3 separate regions of the Homo sapiens genome follow, and regions 1 and 3 are each linked to region 2. The links come from fine-mapping of genetic effects on gene expression. A gene starts in region 2. Each other region holds a variant in brackets. All regions are shown on one strand. Distances are between the middles of the regions.

Region 1 (5,716 bases), 50 kb after region 2:
CTGATTGTTGAGGCAGGTGATTTAGTTAAGAAAAAACTGATTAATTCTGTATTTACTCATAACTCTCCAGACCAGAATCTCCCCCTCCGAGCTGTAGACACCTAAGAAGAAAACATCCGAACCAGTGGCTGTTCTGAGGTCCACAGACACCTAGTAAGGCACCAGGGATGAAGGAGAGGACGTGGCAGCAGCTGCAGACAGCCCTCATGTGACTCTGCCAGCTGCGATCTGCCCACCGTGGCCGGTGTCTGTATCTCTCTGTGCCTCAGTTTCCCCTCCATACAATATGTAAATGGAAAATGGTCTGAGGCTTGCCACTTTGTCTGTGAATGAACTTTAAATTATTCACAGGATCTGACATGAAGCTTGGCACAGAGGAGGTGTTCACATCAACAGCATCTGTTATTTGCCTCCATGGGAGAGCACCCCTGGGCATGATCCCCGGTGGACAAGAAGCTGCCAGGAACATTTTCTCCCCTCTGTTCCTACCCCTGGGCCACTGACTGCCCAAGGGCATCTCTTAAGCTCCTCATTCAGGGGGCCAATGCCCTAGTAATCCTGTCCCCCTGCCCTCTCCAGGCTGAGTCCCAGGGAAAGTGGTAGGCTCTGTCCTTGTCTAGATGAGACTCTGGGAGCTGAGCCCTCACTGATGAGAAGCTTCAGGAACCACAGCCCGCAGACATCTGGTAAATCCTTGCTCCCAGTAAGCCCTGCCCAGGAGACCACACCCCAGCCCTGACACAGGCTTCCCGGGGTCACACGGAGTCAGGAGTCCTGAGGCTGGGCTTTTGTGAGGTTCCCAGGACGCCCTCAGGCCAGGCCCTGACCCAGTTCTCCAGGGTCTTTCTCAGGGTCAGGTTCATGGGGAGGGCATGGGGTGCTTGGCTGAGACTGACCTCCCCCTGCTGAGGCCCCCCCGCCCCCGCCATCAGTGTCTGCAGGGCCTGGATGCAGGAAAGGAATTCTGATCTGTTGAAGTTTACCTACCATGTGTGTGTCCTGCACTAAATGCCCAAATCTCAACACGGGACAAAATGCAGAGGGGGATGCAGGCACAGCCCAGGCCTGACAATCTCATGTGTGTGAAGCAGAACTGACCGCCAGCACCCAGAGGTATGGGGGAATCACTCACGGTGTACGTGGAGCTGGCCAGTTGCTTGGTCAGAGTCGTAACTGGCATTTATGGTTCGTAGGGTGTAGGATCCTGCGTCCTCCAGGGTGATGTTTTGGAACAGCAGGGATCCATTGGGGTATACTGTCTCTCGACCACTGTATGCGGCCCCTGGGATATTTGCTTGAATGTCTGTTATATAACCAGCAATGAGAGGGCTCCCTTCTGCCGTTTTCCCCTTGTGCCAATAATAGGCTTGAATAGTTTCTGAAATATTGCAGGCCAGTAGAAGAACATCCTTTCCCTCTGCAGCACTGGACGGCAGGGCTTCAATAGTGAACTGGACAGTGGTGGGCGGGTGCCAGAAGGTTAAAAGTGAGGCTAGGAGGTGAAGACAGCATCAGTCAATACTGGGACCTATGGAGTGGGATGGAAAGATAAGGCCCTGGGTCCTCAGCAGGTCTCCTCATCCCTCAGCCTTGGAGTGTGTGTGTGTGTGTGTGTGTGTGTGTGTGTGTGTGTGTGTGTGTGTGTGTGTGTGTGTGTCCCTGGGTCAGCAGCATGACCCCCATTCCTTCAACAGCTTGGACCTTGGCATTTCCCTGGTGGAATCTTCTTCCCCAGGGGTCTGCACGGCTCCCTCCCCACTGCCCTCAGATCCTGCTCACATCAGGGTGTTTTTGGGAGACCCCTCCCCTGACACCTCCTCTAGAGACCCTGGGTCTTCCCTTTCTGACCTTTCCCAGCTCTGTTCCCTCCAGGGCTCTTGTCAGCACCTGACCTCACATTCTAGATCTCTTTAGGTGTTTGTCTTCCTCCCCATGAGAGCGTGAGCTCTGTGAGGGCGGGGACTTGTGTGATCTTGGTTGCACCCCAGTGCCTGGCACAGGCTGCAGACTCCTGTAGATGAGTTCATGAGCATTCTCAGGGCCTCCAAGTCCTGAGGTTTATTTCCCAGTGTCTGAGGTTGTTGGCTAAGAGCAGTGTTTTATGCCCTGGTTATGTTTTTATTTGAAGTGTCATCTGGTATAGTTATTATCATTTTTCAAAATGTAGTGGCCAGTGATGATTAACCAGGACGAGAGAACACTTGAGATTTTCCTGCCTTTTACCAATTCCAGTTCACTGAGATTTTCCTGTTGTGACCCCTGCCCCTCTCTGATGTTCTCTCCCTTATCCAGCCTCCAACAGAGGCCCTCAGTCCCCTCTCAGAGCCCCAGGAGACCCCAGCCAGAAGCCCTCTATCCCCTCCTACCCAAGAGACCCCAGTCAGTCTCTGTGCTCCCTCTTCCCACCACTCCCAGAGAGTCCTCCCCTCA[C/G]CTGTGATCAGGAGCCCCTGCCAGGGCCTGTGCCCTCCACGGGGAGCGGCTGAGGGGGGGCCCATGGTCTCTGCTGCCTGCTTGTCCTCTGTGGAGAGGAGCTGGGCTCCAGGAACGCTCTTGTCAGAGCTGCTGTGACTGTCGGCTGTCGGGGCTGCTGACCTTCCTCCTTCTGTGCTGAGCCTCCTCCCGGGCAGAAGCACTTCCCAGGGCCAGGGGCAGAGGCGGGGCTCTTCCCAGGTCACCCCTCTGCCCCTCCCCTCTCATTTCTGCCTTTTTTGTCCCTCCTTCCCCTTTCTCTTCTGTGTACATTACAGTTTCCTAACCACACTTTGAGAAGCAGGGTTGGTGGAGTCCCCTGTCCCCAGAGAGGGTGACTTGTCACCCCTGCACTGACCCTTTGGGAATGTCACCACAAACAGAGGTACTCTGGGGTCTCCCAAACTTGGGGAACTGTTTCCTTTTGTGACACAGAGACCCAGCTGGGCCCCCAGGTCTCCTCATGCTCCCCAATACTCAGGGAGTGTGAGATGATACCCAGCAGGAAGGTGACAGAGGTGGCTCTGTGGGATAGAAAATGGGGGGCGACTACGGGGGGGACCAGTCCTCTCTCTCCAGTGTCACCAGCCTTGCCTCTGACCCAGGGACAGAGATCCAGGCCTGGGGGTCTCAGGAGGATCCCCAGCTCCTGGATGTGGAGGGAGGTGTCCTGCATGTCCTGGGAAGAGAGGACTGTGGTGGAGGGAGGTGGGTGGCTCTGGGTTCTGCTGTCCTTGAGGAGGGATTCAGGGAGATCCTCCCTCTCCGTTTCTGTTGGCTGAGCTGTGGCTTAGGGCCTGTGCATGTTCTCCCTTACCATCCCGGGTGGCCTCTGTCCTCTGTGAAGGTGATTGTCCTGTTGTCACTGTACCTTCCCCATGCATGATACCAGGAGAAAGTGGAGAACTGAGCAGAGAATCCTGGCAGAGCAGGATCCTCAGAGGCTCCAGGAAGGATCAGGAGAGACAGAGCAGGCACATGGGAGGGACTGGAAGGGCCTGCTGGAGCAAAGTATGGAAACCAGGCTTCACCTCCACCTCCTTAGCAAAGCCAGATTCCTGTCCAGGGGAATCCATTTCCTGTGTTGTCTGCGTGCAATGTTGCCCCTGGAGAGCAAGAGGAACCCTGTGGTAAAAGTCAGGGGCTTCCCCAGGGATGCTGACCAGGGTCCACGTGGTATGAGTTGGCCCTGGCCCCTGGGCAGAGGTGGGCTCTGACCTCCAGACTGCAGGGTCAGGTCATCCTTGGTCCTGTTCACTGTGGGTCCCCAGGATGTCCAACTCCATGCAGTGCAGGATGAGCTCAGGGAGAGGACGAGAGTTGTCCAGAGCACTCCTGGTCCTGATTTGGGAGAACTGTCCTGCAGGCGGATGGGCTGCCTCAGAAAGAGCCATCCGTCCCCAAGGTTTCAAAAGAAGGGCCCAGGGAGGTGTCTCTGGGGGTTTAGAGAGAGGGCACTGGCCTGGGAGGTGGTCCTCGGTGTGTTCTGTGTTCCTCCATCACAACACTGGGAGTTCCGCCTCCAGGTCATCTGTGTCCCTGTCTGTCACCTGCCCCAGGCCTCTCCACAGGGCCCAGGAGCTGGGGCAGCTCCTACCTGCAGGCTGCAAGGGATACCTGGTTCCTGTATTAGAGCAGGGGAGGCCCCGTGACCCTCAGTCCCTCTGAGATGGAAACAAAGGCAGATCCTGGGTTATCCTGTCCCCTCCTGCAGGAGAAGTTCCCCTGGATCCCCTGGTGAAATGTCTGCAGGGACCATAGGCAGATGTCCCAAATACTGGGGATCTCGAGGCTGGGGAATCACTCCCTGACTTTCTTGTGGTCATTCTGCCCTGGTGGAAGATCCACCTGGGATCGAATATCCGGAGTTTGTGTCAGTTTTGGTGTGTTTGTGAGAAAGACATATGTTAGAGCCTGGAGGGAATGTCAGTGAATGATGTCAGGGAATGAATTGGGTTTGCCCCTCACTGTTAGAAAGACCCTGAATTCCCTCCCGATGCTACTAGGGTAAAAGCCATGTTCTTATGCTCATTTCTCTAAGGAAATGCAAATAGAGTTTATTAAGGCGTTTCTGGCCAACTAAGGTGGATTTTGTCATGTAGACACAATATAGACCATAATACATGTACATATGCAAAAACACACCTAAACACATATCCACAAACAAATAAAAATCTTACAGCTTTCATTTTAGAATTTTAGTGATGAGATAGTAATACAAACTCACTAGTTGATTAAAGTCAACTGGATCCAATTGTATTTCTGACAAATTGGAATCGTTAACATGGATAAACTTTATTTGCCCCTATAGGTAATATAATGAAGGCTGGGGGAAATATTTTGGGTAAAGCAGTTTCTAATGGCAGTGTAACTTATAAACAAATAAACAAATGAAACCTCTACAGTTTCAGCATCTTTTTTTTTTCTGTTTCACATGAGTTTAGGATTAAATTTTCAATTGCTTACACTTTAGCTAGAACTGGCTGAATTGTATAAGAAAAAAAAATCTCCAACTAGCCTTAAACTAGATTTTTTGTGTGGGTTGGAGGGGGGCGGGTGGTGGTGATGTGGTTTGCTTGATTAACAAATGTGGATGAGGAAGGATTTTAGCTTTTTTTCCTGGCTTTTTCTTTTTTGCCTCTGCATGGCAAAAGAAGAAAAAAGTTTATGTCGGACAGAGACACCTTAAATTATTGCTCTGAGTTCAAGATTTTGACCTGTATGATCTGAGAGCCTAACTTTTATAACCATGTATTTTTTTAATTATTGATTTTTAATTGTGCTCCATTATAAGCAATTATTAGTTAGACAAACTTAAATTTACATTTCCTAAAGGTGTCTAAGTTGTTTCTTATCATGGAGTTGTTTAATTTGTAAAGCCATTAATTTTAAAGCCCTTCAAGATTTCTTTTTTAAAACTCTGGGCTAGAATGCCATAAGCAGTGAGTTTTATCTCAACACCAGTAGAAAAGTCAGCAGATTCAAAGTAGGTAGAGAAAAAAAAATAGAGAATTTAGAAGACTCTACATTTCCACCCTATAGATGCAGGGCTTTTTAAAACAGGTTGAATGATGATCATTGAGTACTGAATTTTCCTTGATGTAATTTTGCTCATAAACTTTAAAATGTGCACAAGAAAGAACCATAAAATGTAGCCAGCTGGAGCCCCAGAAAACCTGGCATGCCTTAATGCTTGAGAGCCCCATTCCATTTCTTATTAATCTCTTGAAAGTGAAGAAAATTTTAC
Region 2 (5,716 bases):
TTCCTCAATGGGGAAAGAATGGTAGCCTCTTCATATTGTGCTGGAACAACTGGATAACCACATGCGAGATAGTGTAGTTAGACCCCTACCTCACAGCCCATACAAAAGTTAACTCAAAATGTTTCAAAAACCTAAATGGAATAGCAAAACTTATCAAACCATTAGAAGAACATATAGGAGTAAAACTTAATGATCTTGGATTGGGCAATGGTTTCTTCAATATGACATCAAGAGCATAAGTAACAAAATTAAAAATAGATAAGTGAACTTCATCAAAGTTAAAAATGTTTGTGCTTCAAAGAACACCATGAAGAAAGTGAGAAGACACAGAATATGAGAAAAATTTTGCAAATCATGTACCCCATAAGGGACTTGTATCTAAAATATATAAAGAACTATTACAACTGAATAATAAAAAGATAACCCATTTTTTTTAAACAGCAAATGATTTGAATAAATAGTTCTCTAAAAAATATTAAAATTGTCAGCAAATACATGAAAAAATGCTCAACTTCATCAGCCACCAGGGAAATGAAAATCAAAACTGCAATGAGCTATCACTTCACACCTACTAGAATGGCTATAAGTTTTAAAAAATATTAAATAGTAAGTGTTTACAAGAATGTAGAGAAAATGGAACCCTCGTATATTGCTGATGGGAATATAAAATAGCACAGCAAACTGGAAAACAGTTTGGCTGTTTCTCAAAAACTTAAACATAGAACTACCACATGACCCCATATTTATACTCCTATATGTACCCCCAAAGAAATGAACACAGAAACCCAAACAGATACTTCCAAGTGTAAGTTCATTGCAGCGGTTTTCACAATAGCAAAAATGTGGAAACCACCCACATGTCCATTAAGAGATGAATGAATTAAAATTGAGGTATAAACATATATTGGGATATTACTCAGCCATAAATAGGAAAGAAGCTGTAATATATGCTACGACGTGGATGAATCTTAAAAGTGTTACCCTAAGAGAAATAATCCAGAAAAAAATAATACACGTATATAATTCCTTATTATATGAGACATGTAAACTAGGCAAATTCACAGAGATTGATAGTATCAGAGGCTACCAGTGGGTGGGGCAGGGGGAAGTGGGGAGTTATTGATTAAAAGTATGAAGTTTCCATTTGGTATAATGAAGATTTTCTGGTAAAAAATTATGGTGATGGTTGTACAACATTGTGAATAGAATTAGTATCATTTAATTCTACACTTAAAATTGCTAATTCAGTACATTTATCTTATGTATTATACCATATCTAAAGAGATCTTTGGGAAACAAACACTCGCCCTGATCAGATAGTCCTCATACTCATGTACACACCCTTCCTGACCTTCTGTAAAAAGGGATACAAAGATTTAGGGACATGAGACAGTTCAGGCAACTGCAGATCCACAAAATATATGTATTTGCAAAGAGAATGAGAGTTAAGCTGGGGGCACAGACCCCAGACACGGAGAGGGTCCCCCTGAAACCTTCACCAAGGACAGCAGAACCCAGAGCCTCCCACCTCCTTCCATCAAAGTCCTCTCTTCCCAGGACACACAGGACACCTCCCTCCACACCTAGGAGCTGGGGATCCTCCCGAGACCTCCAGGCCTGGGTCTCTGTCCCTGGGTCAGAGGCCAGGCTGGTGACACTGAAGATAGCGGGTGGGTCCTTCCCAGCCATCACCCAGTGAGCCCCTTTCTAGCCCCCAGAGCCACCTCTGTCACTTTCCTGCTGGGCATCATTCTGCCTTCCTGGAGCACTGGAGAGCATGAGGAGACCCAGGGCCCAGCTGGTTTTGTGTGTCACAAAGGGAAATAATCTACCGGCTGTGACAGAACCAAGGCCAGAACACAGCAGAGGTCAGTACTGGGGAGAGTGGGTCGTCCTGTTATGAGGACCCCATCAGCGTTGCTTCTCAAAGTTTTGCCTAGGGAACCAAATATAGGCAAAAAGGAAGGAGAAAGGAGGGACAAGGGAGGCAGGACTGAGAGGGGAGGGGACAGAGAGACATTGTAGGCAGAGCCCCGCCCTTGCCCATAAACGGGAAGTGCTCCTGCCTGAGAGGAAGCTCAGCATAGAGGAAGGAAGGACAGCAGAGACAACAGTCACAGTAACCCTGTCTAGAGCGTTCCTGGAGCCCAAGCTCCTCTCCACAGAGGAGGACAGAGCAGGCAGCAGAGACCATGGGGCCCCCCTCAGCTTGTCCCCACAGAGAATGCATCCCCTGGCAGGGGCTCTTGCTCACAGGTGAGGGGAGGACTCCCTGGGAGTGGGTGGGAGGAGGGAGCACAGAGACTGGCTGGGGTCTCCTGGGGAGGATGGGGCTCTGAGAGGAGACAGAGGGCTTTTGTTAGAGACTCAGGGGAGAGAGCGTCTAAGGAGAACCAAAAAATCTAAGTGAACTGGAATTGCCAAGGGGCAAAACAATCTCAGTTGGTCCATGTTTTCAAGTTCATTGTCAGTGGCCACTACACTTTGAAAATGATAGTAAAACTATATCACAGTGACAATTTAAATAAAAACACCACCAGGGCATGAAACTCTGTCTTCATCTGCCAACCTCAGACATTAGCAAATAAACCCCAGGATATGGAAGGCCCTGGGAACGCTCATGAACTCATCCACAGGAGTCTGCAGCCTGTCCCAGGCACTGGGGTGCAACTAACATCACTCAAGTCCATGCCCTCACAGAGCTCACAATCTCATGGGGGGGAAGACAGACACCCAAAGAGATCTAGAATGTGAGGTCAGGTGCTGACAAGAGCCCTGGAGGGAACAGAGCTGGGAAAGGTCAGAAAGGGAAGACCCAGGGTCTCTAGAGGAGGCTTCACGAAAGAAGTCTCCCAGGGATTCCCTTGTGTGAGTAGGAACTGAAGGCAGTGGGGAGGGAACCATGCAGACCCCTGGGAAAGAGGGTTCACACAAGGAAATGCCAAGGTCAGAGGTACTGAAGGAATGAGGGTCATGCTGCTGACTTTGACCCAGTAGGACACACACACACACACACACCCTCTAAGGCTGAGGGGTGAAGAGACCTGCACCCAGGACCCCGTCTTTCCATGCCAATGCATAGGTCAAATATTGACTGATATTCTCTCCCTTTCCTAGCCTCACTTTTAACTTTCTGGAACGCACCCACCACTGCCTGGCTCTTTATTGCATCAGCGCCCTTTGAAGTTGCTGAAGGGGAGAATGTTCATCTCTCTGTGGTTTATCTGCCCGAGAATCTTTACAGCTATGGCTGGTACAAAGGGAAAACGGTGGAGCCCAACCAGCTAATCGCAGCATATGTAATAGACACTCACGTTAGGACTCCAGGGCCTGCATACAGCGGTCGAGAGACAATATCACCCAGTGGAGATCTGCATTTCCAGAACGTCACCCTAGAGGACACGGGATACTACAACCTACAAGTCACATACAGAAATTCTCAGATTGAACAGGCATCTCACCATCTCCGTGTATACGGTGAGTGATTCCTCCGTGCCTCTGGGTGTTGGGGGTCAGTTCTGCTTCACATACGCAGGATTGTCAGGCCTGGGCTGTGCCTGCATCCCCCTCTGCATTACGTCCCATGTTGGGGTTTGGGCATTTAGTGCAGGACACACCCAGGGGAGACAAACTATAACAGATCAGAATTCCTTTCCCTTATCCGGACTCCGTGGAAATTCCCTACAGCAAGAAGGATAGTCTGATGCGGGAGATGCAGCGGGGGAAAATCAGTCTCAGTCCAACCCCCCTTGGCCTCCTCCTCATAGACATGACCTGAGAAAGATCTTATAGGACTCAGTCAGGGCCTGGCCTGAGGATCCTCTGAGAGAAGCTCAGCCCTTGAAGCCCCTGCCCCAGGCCCCTGTCCCAAGATCCTGACTCCAGATGACCCTGGGGAGCCTGTGCCAGGGCTGGGTTGTGGCTTCCTGGGCAGGGCTGATTGTGAGCAAGGATTTACCAGCTGTCCCAGGGCCGTGGTTCCTAGAGCTGGTCACCAGGCAGGGCTCAGCCCCCAGAGCCCCATCTGGGCAAGGGCAGAGCCTCATCTTTCACCTGAGAGTCAGAGTGGAGAGGACAGACAAACAAACTTCCCAGGCCATTAAACTGGATGGGAAACTTAAAAGATGTCCCGGGAAGTGCACTGTCCTCAGGAGGAGGGAAAGCAGAGAAAAGACACTCTGGACCGCTCCTTCTCCACCAGGAATCAGGCCCAGAGAACTCTTTTTTTTTTTTTTTGGAGTAAAATAATAATAGATGATGTTTATTTGGAGCTATTCTGTGCCAAGCTTTAGGTCAGGTAATTGTAAATATTTTAATGTTAATTTACAGAGAGGATGGCAAGCCAGGGACCATTGACATGTACCCCATTTTATTAAAGAGAAATTGCATCAGCATCACACAGGCTGTCAGTGCTCAACGTCACACCACCGTGTGTCTGCAGCCCAGAATCTGGTCGTGGCCACCACCGTGGGGCATCTGTGGACCCCAGGACCAGATGTTGGTTCAGCTCCTTTCTTCTTGGGCATCCTCAGCTCAGAGAGGGAGATTCTGGTCTGAGGAATGACGGGCAAATGGAGAATTAGTCAGTTTTTACTTAGAACGAAATCACCTGTCTCAACTATCAGACTCAATGCCAGGATTGTCCAAGCCTCTCCCATCAGATCCACATTCCTTCCCTCACTGGACGTGAAATCATGAATTTCTTGATTTGTTGATGTCACTCCCATGGGAGGATGAAGGAAAGGACTCAGCTTTCTCTTCCCACTACACCCTGTACCTGCACAAGGCCCAACTGAGACACACACTCAGTAGTTCTCTGATGAAGGAGGGAGGGAATTAATGAAAAAAGAAAGGAATAATCATAACCTCTTTACAGACTGGGTCCTGGATGTAGGATCCTAGGAGGAGCTGGCCACACCTCTTCCTTGTCCCTTAGGGGCTGAGACCCATGTTCCATTTCTCTGACTGCCTGCTCCTAAAGCCACCCCAGGTATTGCATCTCATGTGACTCTGGGGCCGCTCATCTGTGGGAGGGTTTTCAGGGCTCCCTGGTCCTGGTCTGAGGCAGCTGGGTCCTCCTGGTCCCTGGGGTCTCTGAGGTCACTGTAGTCCCTACTGCTCGCTGCTATGGGTGTCTCTGGTTCTCTCTGCTCCTCCCTGTCCTTCATCTTTCTCCTTTATTCACAGGAGAATGTTCTAAATTTGACTCTGAGATCTCTGAGGATGCAGCATGGCCCCAAGACACTTTCTGTTGGTCACTCTATCCACAGAGTCAGTGGCTCAGCCCTCCATCCAAGCCAGCAGCACCACAGTCACAGAGAAGGGCTCCGTGGTCCTGACCTGCCACACAAATAACACTGGAACCTCTTTCCAGTGGATTTTCAACAACCAGCGTCTGCAGGTCACGAAGAGGATGAAGCTGTCCTGGTTTAACCATGTGCTCACCATAGACCCCATCAGGCAGGAGGACGCTGGGGAGTATCAGTGTGAGGTCTCCAACCCAGTCAGCTCCAACAGGAGCGACCCCCTCAAGCTGACTGTAAAATGTGAGTGACCCTCGGCCCCTCTCACTCCTTTCCTTGTATATTTTCCTAGGAGGGAGGGGGGGTGTAAAATGATACACGGAATGAGAAGGATGAGATTCCTTCAGAGCCTGGGGAGCAATGTGGGTAAGAACTCAGGGATTAGACTCATCCAGTTATCATCCTGGTTACAA
Region 3 (5,716 bases), 30 kb before region 2:
TGGAAGCTCTGGGGGAAGTAAAGACAATCCTGGGTGCCTCAATGGGGCATTTCCTAATTTCAGAGAAATCAAACCAAAAACAGTGAGGAAATGGACTCCTTGAAGACTGTGGTCCATGAATATATGTAGGGAAAGGAAAGAGAGATCAGACTGTCACTGTGTCCATGTAGAAAGGAAAGACATAAGAGACTCCATTTTGAAAAAGACCTGTACTTTGAACAATGGCTTTGCTGAGATGTTGTTAATTTGTAGCTTTGCCCCAGCCACTTTGACCCAGCCACTTTGACCCAACTTGGAGCTCACAAAAACATGTGTTGTATGAAATCAAGGTTTAAGGGACCTAGGGCTGTGCAGGATGTGCCTTGTTAACAAAATATTTACAAGCAGTATACTTGGTAAAGGTCATTGCCATTCTCTAGTCTCAATAAACCAGGGGCACAATACACTGTGGAAAGCCGCAGGGACCTCTGCCCTTGAAAGCGGGGTATTGTCCAAGGTTTCTCCCCATGTGATAGTCTGAAATATGGCCTCATGGGATGAGAAGGACCTGACTGTCCCCCAGCCCAACACCCATAAAGGGTCTGTGCTGAGGTGGATTAGTAAAAGAGGAAAGCCTCTTGCAGTCGAGATGGAGGAAGGCCACTGTCTCCTGCTTGCCCCTCAGAACTGAATGTCTCGGTGTAAAACCCAATTGTACATTTGTTCAACTCTGAGATAGGAGAAAAGCTGCCCTGTGGCGGGAGGTGAGACATGTTTGCAGTAATACTGCCTTGTTATTCTTTACTCCACTGAGATGTTTGGGTGGAGAGAAACATAAATCTGGCCTGAGTGCACGTCCAGGCATAGTACTTTCCCTTGAACTTAATTATGATATAGATTCTTTTGCTCACATGTTTTTCATTGACCTTCTCCTTATTATCACCCTGCTCTCCTACTACATTCCTTTTTGCTGAAATAATGAAAATAATAATCAATAAAAACTGAGGAAACTCAGAGGCCGGTGCCGGTGCAGGCCCTTGGTGTGCTGAGTGCTGGTCCCCTGGACCCACTGTTGTTTCTTTATACTTTGTCTCTGTGTCTTATTTCTTTTCTCTGTCTCTCCTCCCACCCAACTAGAAATACCCACAGGTGTGGAGAGGCAGGCCACCCCTTCAAATATATAGGACCCAGAACCAGTCCATTGGGGAGGAAGCTTTCAAGGGACACATTTTGGCTGGGAAGGAGGACAGTGAAGCTCTCCAGCCAGGGAGGACGCCTGGCAGTCACAGTGATCTCGGAGGGGCCCTGCACACTTCCACCACTTCCGGTTCCTCGATTCCTCTCCACCACACCCATTTTCTGAGTTCTCCTGGGCACCAGGCACTGGAAGCCGTTCCTGCTCTCATTCCTCACCCCCCTTTTCTTCATTCTTCAGGGCACGACATTCTCCAACATGTTCACATCCCTCAATTTTCCTTCCCCACCTGTCTGGAGTCTGAAGCTCCAGGCACTGCAAGGATGTGAGTTGGGGACCTGTTTGTTCTCCCCGTTTTACTGGATCTTTCAGGGTCTCCATTGTCCAACTTACTAGGAGCCCTGAATGCTTGCCGACTCTACCCCATCTGCTCCATTCTGTGGGCTGTGTCCTCTCTCAAACCTCCCAGGTCTTTCAGGCCCAGGCCCCCTCCTCCACTTGCTTGTGCCCAGGCTCCTACCCAGCCTCTGCTAGGATCCAGTATTGTCAACAATAAATAGATCTCCTTGGAATCAGGGTAACTGGCAAGCTCGGTTGAAGGACGTATGAGAGGATGGAGGTGGAGAGTTCACTCTCCCAAAGTGCCCCTCACACACACACGCAATGGGGACAATGCCAGAGCCTGACCTTATTTCACAGCAAGCTGCCCAAATCTCACCTTGCTCAGTGCTGGACACTGAAAACACTGACCCTCCCAGTGAAAGCTGCTCTCCTCTGTTCTTAGTCCCCACGCCAGGCCACTCTGCATTCTGTACCCTTCCCCCAGGCTGGTGTCCCAGACCGTACTTTACCCAGAGAGCCCTGCCCTCAAACTCACTTCCTCTCCGGACAGGCTTTCTGCCTTAAGCTGCGCTTCTTCCTCGGTGGTAGCAGGAGGCCTTCCTCTCCCTCCTCCCTCTATGATTTCTTGCACCTAAATGAATCTAACCTTGCTCTCACCTTTGTCCCTTGTGCCCTAACTTCTGTTGACACCTTCATCTGGTGCCCCTGACATAACCCTGGGGCTCCTGAGCCCTGGGACATTTGTATCTAGACAACCACGAGCCTAACACCCTAAACAGACACAGGCATAGACACACACACACACACACACACACACACACCCAGCACCAAAGCTGCTCCTACCCCAGTCACACTGGAATTAGATGAAAACCCCAGGCTTTGGACTCCTTGGCTGTGAGGGTCTTCCTGGAAAGAGCCAGGTCCAGCTGCATTTTCTCATACCCTGAAATCGCACCACTACACCCCAGCCTGAGCAACAGAGCCAGACTCCATCATTTAAAAAAAAAAAAAAAGTACCCAAAAGAGTTCCAGAATAAGATAAAAATGGTTTACATACAATCTCGCTATCTGGGAATATAAAGTGCAGTTACTAAAAGCAGGGAATCTCTTTCCTGAAACTATTTCTAACTCTGTGAGGAGCTGCTAGATTCTACAGTGCCTGACAGACAGCTCTCAAGGGCCGTTTGGCTTGTGAATGGCATTTCCAAGGCAAACATCTTGTTTGAAAGCTGCTGCTCTGGTTAAAGAAGGGTCATGAAAGTCTTTTTTTTTTTCCAGTTATTTGGGTGAAGTATGTTTTTGCGAGCAAATTTACCTTTCCCTCTGCGTTCTCCACAT[T/C]TTGGGTTGTGATTTTATGACAATATAGTTTGTATATTCAACTTATACATATTTATAGTGTTCAGTAAGAGCCTTTTAAAATAAAACAATTGAACACATTGGTTATTTTCACAAGACTCTAACCAAAATAGTATATTTTTAGGTAAAAACCCAGGAAAATTAACTCAAAAGTAGCCTATATGGCCGATGAATTCTTGCTGCATTTTATGCAAATTATCAGGCCAAGTGTAATAAGCCTAAAATTGATTTTGCACACAAATTGGTCTTACTGTAATTTCTCTTTAATAGGAAAAATAGGGGGCTACAGACCAACCAGGATCTTCATGAGGACCAGTGAGCACAGGAGTAGGAAAGGGGTCACTAGCATCACTGAGATGCAGGTGGTGGCCATTCCTCATAGAAAACGAGATTTTTGGGGAACCTCCCATAGTGCTGAGCTCCATAGTGCCCACGGGGATGACAGAATCTGAGAATGGCTGGGACCAGGACTTTTGTCATCAAAAGCCAGCTGGAGGGTATAGGCAGTAAAATTGGAATGCAGCAAAGGGAGGCTGACCTGCAAAGCACTAGGAGGGATCTCATAAAACCTGTTACCCTTAGAGGCAAGACAGGTGGAAAAAGAGTAAGTATGTCACTTAGTAGACATAATCAAGAGGAGCAGAAAGCCAAGGTCAGCTGTCCGCCATAGAATGTCATGATCCCTTGCTCAGTGAAGACCTGAGACAGTCCTCACACCACTATATGTTTTTCTTTTTATAACCTTTATTAAAATACAGTTTATTTTTTCATTTACTTGGCACATTTGTATAATTGTGAAATTGTTTTCTTAGTAGTTTTAGTTACATATACTCAGTATAATGTTAGCTTTTAGGAACCCCTCTTTAGTAAAAATAAAACAAAAACGTAAGCAATTTTAATTGGTAGGAGTTGCAGAGCCCACAGCAAAGGACAGAGCTGTGGAAAATGTCTGACTCTTCCCAGCACGGAGTCGGGCCGTGGCTCCTTTCACATGTCCCCAGACCTCAGCTAGAATTGAATGCTCTAAAACAGACAGGCCAGATGATTATTTAAAATGTTTTGGAAACAGTTTTTGACCTGCAAATATTTAGTAATGGCAATATTTCACATGTCTCATGTGGACAAAATGTCTACATTGTGAAGATATTTTTCTTTTACTTTACTAATAATTTTTAAAACTGACTTTATTGTTTTAAGTTTTGTAAAGTCACATGAACTAAAAGGCAATTGAGTTAACGTTTCAATTTTTCTGATAAAGACTTGATTGAAGTGTTTATTTTTAAGCCAATGAATGAGAGATTTATCATATATTTTGAAGTGAAACGCTATATACACATGACTCATCTAAATATACAGACTGAGGTCAATTTTATAGATTTAGAACTTTTTTTATTTGTTGGGCTTTTAATATTTTTTAAAAGCTTTACATCCTTTATTTTTGATAATTTGTGATTTCCCTGGTGCAATTATTTGGAGCCCACAGCAGTTGGGATCTGTGTATGCAGCAGAGGGTGCCCCTCCAAGCCTCTGGCTCTCTAAGGCCTCCTTCCATTTCAAGGGTAATTAAAATAAGGCTGATTGTTAGGGATTCTGGTGTGATGAACCCCAGCCCTCTCCCACTTCTGGGGGCTAAGTGTTTACATGCCATCGCCCTTTGTTCCCCTACTGGGCCTCACATCACCTTCTTCCTCTTCTGGACTCAAATCTCTCTCTGCTTCCCCTTCCTAAGGACACTTGGGATTTCACGAGGGTCTAGCTAGATAAGCCGGGAGAACCTCCCACTGTTAAGATAATTAACTTCCTCACATTCACAAAAGCTCCTTTGCCACAGAAAGTCACTCTCACAGGCTACAGGTCATAGTTCGCAGTTACAGGAACTTGAAAATATTCTGCCTTCAAGTCCACCAGCTTTTGTAAAAAGCATCTGTTTCCTGTCCTGTGTAGTTGAGCACACTAAAGTCTTGTTCCCTTAGTCATTCCTCCTTCTGCTGCCCCTGTGGGGAGGGTCTTGCTGCCTGTACCCACCTCTGACATTTGCACTCTTAGACAACATAGCCGCTAATTTGTTGGAAAGGCGTTAAATTAAAAAAAAAAAAGTGCTATTTACCGCCTCCCTCTTTGACAGAAGACTGTCTGTCAAAGTAACCCCGCCCCAAGTGACTTTTTAAGGGGTGGCTCACCAGGAGGGAGTCAGAGCAGAACTTGGACTGAGTCCTGCAGGACACAGGTATTAGCTTTTCTCTTTTATTTGCTTTATGTTTCATTTACTTCTTTGGATCGAATAGCTCCAATTGTATTGCTGTTATTTGGTTTTTCATTTTGTTGTTGGGTTTTTTGATGTGGTGTTTTTTTGTTTTGTTTTGTTTCTTTTTGTCTTTTTAGAAAGAGGGTTTCCCTCTATTGCCCTGGCTGGAGTACAGTGGTGGAATCACTGTTCACTACAGCCTCCAACTTATTCCTGGGCTCAAGCAATCCTTCTGTCTCCATCTCCTGAGCAGCTGGGACTCTAGGCATTTGCCACCGTGCCCAATTTTTTTTTAATTCCTTTTTAAAAATATTTTAATCCTTTCCGGAAAAAAATATGTTTTCCATGGACTTGCTTATTTCCTTTATACAGTCCATTGTCGTTGAATTCTTATTTGAATTTGTGATACACCCTCTCATAGGGAACATAACAAATTTCCTCCCACAGCAATTAATGACGAGTGCGATGAGAAGCATAATGACAATGATTAACTTGATAATTAAAAATCTAATCAACCAACTGTTGATGATTGTACTAAACAAAATAATTTCATTTTTACACAACCAGTTGTATGTGAACTATGTTGAAAACAGGATGCA

The links. PIP is the estimated chance that this variant, and not a neighbour inherited with it, causes the effect. A credible set is the group of variants that fine-mapping cannot tell apart.
Region 1: its variant is the best candidate, but not a certain one, in a credible set for the expression of CEACAM21 in whole blood (TOPMed, PIP 0.74).
Region 3: its variant is the best candidate, but not a certain one, in a credible set for the expression of CEACAM21 in whole blood (GTEx, PIP 0.64).

The regions. Positions count from the first base shown.
Region 1 is chr19:41,624,469-41,630,184 of GRCh38, forward strand. It overlaps CEACAM4 (CEA cell adhesion molecule 4), which reads right to left and starts at 2,606. Exons shown (of 7, transcript NM_001817.4): 1 at 2,432-2,606; 2 at 1,133-1,492. The coding sequence starts at 2,495. The variant C/G (reference allele first, on the strand shown) is at 2,431.
Region 2 is chr19:41,574,083-41,579,798 of GRCh38, forward strand. It overlaps CEACAM21 (CEA cell adhesion molecule 21), which reads left to right and starts at 2,084. Exons shown (of 7, transcript NM_001098506.4): 1 at 2,084-2,256; 2 at 3,118-3,477; 3 at 5,271-5,546. The coding sequence starts at 2,193.
Region 3 is chr19:41,544,454-41,550,169 of GRCh38, forward strand. It overlaps a transcript of CEACAM21 not described here. Among named protein-coding and RNA genes, the nearest start is that of LINC01480, 12 kb to the left of the region's middle. The variant T/C (reference allele first, on the strand shown) is at 2,855.